2 linked regions of the Homo sapiens genome follow. The protein of the gene in region 1 purifies or fractionates together with the protein of each later gene. This does not show direct contact. Each region holds a gene or a part of one and is shown on either strand. Other genes may lie near its edges.

What was found.
Region 2: the proteins of SC5D (region 1) and CCR6 purify together in Homo sapiens (co-immunoprecipitation; one large-scale study listed by IntAct). This does not show direct contact.

Annotation. Positions count from the first base shown.
Region 1 is NC_000011.10:121,302,536-121,306,298, forward strand, and holds part of SC5D (lathosterol oxidase), read left to right. Parts: intron 1-830; 5' UTR 831-840; coding exon 841-1,050; intron 1,051-1,825; coding exon 1,826-1,958; intron 1,959-3,763. UniProt on the Homo sapiens protein: Catalyzes the penultimate step of the biosynthesis of cholesterol, the dehydrogenation of lathosterol into 7-dehydrocholesterol (7-DHC).
Region 2 is NC_000006.12:167,136,369-167,139,851, forward strand, and holds the end of CCR6 (C-C chemokine receptor type 6), read left to right. Parts: coding exon 1-987; 3' UTR 988-2,773; downstream 2,774-3,483. UniProt on the Homo sapiens protein: Receptor for the C-C type chemokine CCL20. Binds to CCL20 and subsequently transduces a signal by increasing the intracellular calcium ion levels.

The DNA.
Region 1 (3,763 bases):
GCAAACTATCTGTAAATGGCCAGGTAGTAAATGCCTTCGGTTCAACGGGCCATACTGTCTCTGTTGCAGTGATACTATAAGCCCACCTTTGTAGCAGAAAAGCAGCCACAGACAGTATGTAAACATCTGGGTGTCGCTGTGTTCCATAAAGATTTTTACAAAGCAGGCTCTGAGTTTGGCCCGTGGGCTGCAATTTACCAACTCCCGATCTGGAATATTGATTAGAGGTAGAGAAATAAATGTATTCCAGTTCTTAACACCAAGAATACATCTTCCTTTGTTCTGTCAATGGGAGTGTCAGAAGAACAGATAGTCCCAATTCTATGGTTGTGGTGGCAGCATGGATATCTTTTAGGGAATTTATCTTAGGTGTCAGTGCTGAAGCAAAAATCTCTGAAGTATGAATCCTTGAAGGAGAGAGATGAGCTGAAACTTGTAGCTGAAAGAGGAAACTATTTGTCTGAGTACCTAGTCCCCTGCATTCCCATCTTTACCACTTGCCATGCTGCCATAGGACGCGGTAGGGAATGACACTGAAATGGAATTCCATCTGGGCTTGTGCCACTTAGCAGCTTGATGACCTTTCCTGGGCCTCAGTTTCTCTAACTGAGCTTTAGCATCCCCATACATAGTATGAAGAGATTGGACTAGAGATGATATCTAAGATCCCTTCTGGCTCTAAAGATGGCATGTAGGGGATTCTGATAGCAGCAGATGTACTGCATATGACTGTTCTTAAATCAGGAACTTGAGATATAGTGTTTCTGAAAAATTTTTGCCTGGAAAAATAGAGACATGGTAACTAATTGTCACACATGCTTATTTTTTAGGGGCTAAGTGATGGATCTTGTACTCCGTGTTGCAGATTACTATTTTTTTACACCATACGTGTATCCAGCCACATGGCCAGAAGATGACATCTTCCGACAAGCTATTAGTCTTCTGATTGTAACAAATGTTGGTGCTTACATCCTTTATTTCTTCTGTGCAACACTGAGCTATTATTTTGTCTTCGATCATGCATTAATGAAACATCCACAATTTTTAAAGGTAAGAAATGTTTTTACCTATTTTCTAACGATTAAAGTAAAAATAACAATATGATATATTTCTGAGATTTTTAGATTAAGCTGATTATATGTAACCATTAAATAAAATTTTGGAGACCAACCACAAATGGGTTAGATATTTTCATGAGGGTTAATCCCTGCTCTCCTTCCCTTAGTTTAAGCAAATCTAACTTTTTAATAAAACTATAAGTCTAGTATCGTATCTTGCTAGATGCATATTGGAGCATTTTTATGCTGATATTGATGAGTAAATAAATGCATACATTTATGTAATTATTTTAATATATGATTTTCACAAACTGAAATGTGTTTTTTTACCATGTTTTGTTTTTTGGCTAGATAGGGGATTCAAACTCAGTAGTTTTAAAGTTGTTTACAATCATTTTTAAATTTCGGTTGTTTGTACTTGTCAGTGACTCCAAGGACTGAACAGCAAAAAGAAAAAATAGAGAGGATTGGGGATGGAAGTTAATTAGGAAAGAAATGGTTATTCCATAAATAGAAGTTTAGAATGCAGATTTTGGAGGAAGGAAAAAAGGTTTCAGAATTTGAAATACTTATTGCATTTTCTCAGTACAAAAGGAATGATTTTCTTACATACCTATTTTTATGTATTTAAAATTTTAATAGAAACAGTTTGGAGGTAAGCCCCTTCATGTAAAAGAGATTTTAAAAATCCAGTCCAGAACAGTTTTATGCTAGTTTTGTTTAACATGGATTTTGTGATTTTTAAGTATTGGAAATTTCACTTTCAGAATCAAGTCCGTCGAGAGATTAAGTTTACTGTCCAGGCATTGCCATGGATAAGTATTCTTACTGTTGCACTGTTCTTGCTGGAGATAAGAGGTTACAGCAAATTACATGATGACCTAGGAGAGTTTCCATATGGTAAGTAAATAACACGAGTGTCAGGAAGAGAGTAGTCTAAGCACAGGTTAGTTTCCTTAAAAAAACAAGTCTGCCCTTTTTTTTTTCATCTTTTAAAATAATTACAAATTATTCAGTTGTTTTTTAATGTTCTATTTTCATGTGTTCATGTCTTGCCACATGTGCATTTCTTTAGTTTTTCTATCAATCTGAAAGTCTGCTGTAGATGAGATTGTGTCTGGCGGAAGATTGGAGTGATCAGAGATGGGTCCTTGCATTTGTTTTCTATTAATTATTGAATTCAACCTTCTAAAAAAAACTTGAGTAGCTTATGTCATTGCTGAAAGTTAAAAACAGATTTTTAAAATGCATTATTCTGCTTCTTAGAAACTGTAACTCTTCTGGCATACAACCACCCACTTTTCTGTGCCTGTATACTTCATTGTTTACATTACACAAATGAAGTCCTGAGGTGCATAGTGGTTTGGGCTCTGAATTTTGTTTCTCTTAGCAACTTACATGGTTGTATTTTCATGTCAAAAAAATCTTGAGATTATGTAATATATTAGTCATAGTACTGTGCGGATATTCATAAGTTATGTAAATGATACCTAATTGTTAGACCTTCAGATTGTTACTCTTTTTTGTATTATAAACAGCCCTGTAGTGAGTAAACTTTTGTGAAATTCTGAAACTTTTTCAAGATACATTTCTAGGATCTAGTATGTAAAAAGCAAGAATCATAGTATTTATTGAAGGCTGATATGTGTCAGTGACAGTTCTCAGCTCTTCACAAGAATCAGTCCATTGTTTTCCTACAATTCTATGAGATAGGTACTATCACTGTGCTCCTTTTATAGGTGAGTCAATGAGGTGTACAGAGAGTTTCAGTAACGAGTTGGTGGTAGATCTGAGACTTGGACTCAGGCTTGCAGGCACCAGCACCCCCACACTTTAAGTAAGAAGTTAGTTATTGCCGGGCGCGGTGGCTCAATCCTGTAATCCCAGCACTTTGGGAGACCGAGGTAGGAGGATCACGAGGTCAGGAGTATGAGACCATCCTGGCCAACATGGTGAAACCCCATCTCTACTAAAATACAAAAAATTAGCGGGGTGTGGTGGTGCACACCTGTAGTCCCAGCTACTCAGGAGGGTGAGGCAGGAGAATCCCTTGAACCTGGGAGGCAGAGATTGCGCCACTGCACTCCAGCCTGGGCGACAGAGCGAGACTCCGTCTCAAAAAAAAAAAAGAAAAAAAAAGTCAGTTATTCAGAAGAAGGAACAAAAAATTATATACTAGAGTAATGAATTGGCTGGGCTTTGAAAAATGGATATGATTATGAGTTAAAATAAAGGGAGAGAGGACATTTTAGGTTCTTGAACCCCTATGATGAAAGATACAGAGGTAAAACTTCCAAGACAGTGGGAGGACATTGAGTAAACCTGCCTGGTTAGAGTAGAAATACAGGAGTGATGAGGTTGGAAAGATCCGAAAGGGGTGGAGTATGGAATAAATGCTAAATTTAAAGTATTTAGTGGAAAGTATATTTTAAGCAGGGAGATAATGTGTAAAGATGGGTTTTAGGAAGATTAATATGAAGGAAGTGATGATTCCCAGAGATTTAAATAATAAAGATGTCTTAGGAGTATCCTGTCTCACAAATATCTTTATAGTTTAATTAAGAAGTACTTTAGGTAGAACATTTCAAGTACTTATGCGAGGGAAATGAGGAAATGACCAGATTCCAAGAAGCCAAGAGAGATTAGTTTATAATATACTGAATTAGCCAGAACAGATCATTTATAATGTTTGAGTCTAGGATCCC
Region 2 (3,483 bases), on another chromosome or scaffold:
CTATTTGTACCGATTGCCTACTCCTTGATCTGTGTCTTTGGCCTCCTGGGGAATATTCTGGTGGTGATCACCTTTGCTTTTTATAAGAAGGCCAGGTCTATGACAGACGTCTATCTCTTGAACATGGCCATTGCAGACATCCTCTTTGTTCTTACTCTCCCATTCTGGGCAGTGAGTCATGCCACCGGTGCGTGGGTTTTCAGCAATGCCACGTGCAAGTTGCTAAAAGGCATCTATGCCATCAACTTTAACTGCGGGATGCTGCTCCTGACTTGCATTAGCATGGACCGGTACATCGCCATTGTACAGGCGACTAAGTCATTCCGGCTCCGATCCAGAACACTACCGCGCAGCAAAATCATCTGCCTTGTTGTGTGGGGGCTGTCAGTCATCATCTCCAGCTCAACTTTTGTCTTCAACCAAAAATACAACACCCAAGGCAGCGATGTCTGTGAACCCAAGTACCAGACTGTCTCGGAGCCCATCAGGTGGAAGCTGCTGATGTTGGGGCTTGAGCTACTCTTTGGTTTCTTTATCCCTTTGATGTTCATGATATTTTGTTACACGTTCATTGTCAAAACCTTGGTGCAAGCTCAGAATTCTAAAAGGCACAAAGCCATCCGTGTAATCATAGCTGTGGTGCTTGTGTTTCTGGCTTGTCAGATTCCTCATAACATGGTCCTGCTTGTGACGGCTGCAAATTTGGGTAAAATGAACCGATCCTGCCAGAGCGAAAAGCTAATTGGCTATACGAAAACTGTCACAGAAGTCCTGGCTTTCCTGCACTGCTGCCTGAACCCTGTGCTCTACGCTTTTATTGGGCAGAAGTTCAGAAACTACTTTCTGAAGATCTTGAAGGACCTGTGGTGTGTGAGAAGGAAGTACAAGTCCTCAGGCTTCTCCTGTGCCGGGAGGTACTCAGAAAACATTTCTCGGCAGACCAGTGAGACCGCAGATAACGACAATGCGTCGTCCTTCACTATGTGATAGAAAGCTGAGTCTCCCTAAGGCATGTGTGAAACATACTCATAGATGTTATGCAAAAAAAAGTCTATGGCCAGGTATGCATGGAAAATGTGGGAATTAAGCAAAATCAAGCAAGCCTCTCTCCTGCGGGACTTAACGTGCTCATGGGCTGTGTGATCTCTTCAGGGTGGGGTGGTCTCTGATAGGTAGCATTTTCCAGCACTTTGCAAGGAATGTTTTGTAGCTCTAGGGTATATATCCGCCTGGCATTTCACAAAACAGCCTTTGGGAAATGCTGAATTAAAGTGAATTGTTGACAAATGTAAACATTTTCAGAAATATTCATGAAGCGGTCACAGATCACAGTGTCTTTTGGTTACAGCACAAAATGATGGCAGTGGTTTGAAAAACTAAAACAGAAAAAAAAATGGAAGCCAACACATCACTCATTTTAGGCAAATGTTTAAACATTTTTATCTATCAGAATGTTTATTGTTGCTGGTTATAAGCAGCAGGATTGGCCGGCTAGTGTTTCCTCTCATTTCCCTTTGATACAGTCAACAAGCCTGACCCTGTAAAATGGAGGTGGAAAGACAAGCTCAAGTGTTCACAACCTGGAAGTGCTTCGGGAAGAAGGGGACAATGGCAGAACAGGTGTTGGTGACAATTGTCACCAATTGGATAAAGCAGCTCAGGTTGTAGTGGGCCATTAGGAAACTGTCGGTTTGCTTTGATTTCCCTGGGAGCTGTTCTCTGTCGTGAGTGTCTCTTGTCTAAACGTCCATTAAGCTGAGAGTGCTATGAAGACAGGATCTAGAATAATCTTGCTCACAGCTGTGCTCTGAGTGCCTAGCGGAGTTCCAGCAAACAAAATGGACTCAAGAGAGATTTGATTAATGAATCGTAATGAAGTTGGGGTTTATTGTACAGTTTAAAATGTTAGATGTTTTTAATTTTTTAAATAAATGGAATACTTTTTTTTTTTTTTTAAAGAAAGCAACTTTACTGAGACAATGTAGAAAGAAGTTTTGTTCCGTTTCTTTAATGTGGTTGAAGAGCAATGTGTGGCTGAAGACTTTTGTTATGAGGAGCTGCAGATTAGCTAGGGGACAGCTGGAATTATGCTGGCTTCTGATAATTATTTTAAAGGGGTCTGAAATTTGTGATGGAATCAGATTTTAACAGCTCTCTTCAATGACATAGAAAGTTCATGGAACTCATGTTTTTAAAGGGCTATGTAAATATATGAACATTAGAAAAATAGCAACTTGTGTTACAAAAATACAAACACATGTTAGGAAGGTACTGTCATGGGCTAGGCATGGTGGCTCACACCTGTAATCCCAGCATTTTGGGAAGCTAAGATGGGTGGATCACTTGAGGTCAGGAGTTTGAGACCAGCCTGGCCAACATGGCGAAACCCCTCTCTACTAAAAATACAAAAATTTGCCAGGCGTGGTGGCGGGTGCCTGTAATCCCAGCTACTTGGGAGGCTGAGGCAAGAGAATCGCTTGAACCCAGGAGGCAGAGGTTGCAGTGAGCCGAGATCGTGCCATTGCACTCCAGCCTGGGTGACAAAGCGAGACTCCATCTCAAAAAAAAAAAAAAAAAAAAAGGAAAGAACTGTCATGTAAACATACCAACATGTTTAAACCTGACAATGGTGTTATTTGAAACTTTATATTGTTCTTGTAAGCTTTAACTATATCTCTCTTTAAAATGCAAAATAATGTCTTAAGATTCAAAGTCTGTATTTTTAAAGCATGGCTTTGGCTTTGCAAAATAAAAAATGTGTTTTGTACATGAAGTAGGAATCGTATTTCAGCTTCAAGGTTCAGATTGAGGGGCCCACTGTTTGGAGAGGATGGTATTCAGGCTTTCTCATGTCCTTCAAATCTGTTAGCGTTTGACTCTAGAAATCAAAGCAAAGGAGTGGTTACCCAGACACTTCTTTTGGTGTGATCAATGCGCTGATGTGATCTATGAAGATGATTCATGCTTGAAAACTAGCACAGAAACATCTTGCTTATTTGCCAAAGCTGGGAGATGAGCTTCTCTGCATAATTTAAATGTTCAGATAAATGAAGCTGACTTATTTAAGCAATAACCTTTTAAACATTTTAGCTAAGATGTATAAAAATGTTTCCAAAATATACCACATACTTTATTTCTTCTTAAATGTAGTACATTAGGTTACATCATTTTTCTTGCTGTCTTGGGCATCAAAACAGGTGCCATGGTAACCTGACACTCTCAGGAGACATTAAGATAGAAGGGGCTGTTCTTCAGTGGTTCCCATTGATTCTCCCCATATCTTTTTGCTCTCAGGCTCTGGCCGTCTCTTCCTGAGCCTTAACTGTGTCTGCCGTTAGTCCTCCTCTCCACTCATTGCAAACATTATTCTATATGTTTGGTGGGGACATCAGCTATCTGCGCTTGTCAGAATTGTCTATTAATAGGGGCAATGTGTTAGAACCTCCAAGTATTCAATTATTTCTGGATACGTGAGATCTTACT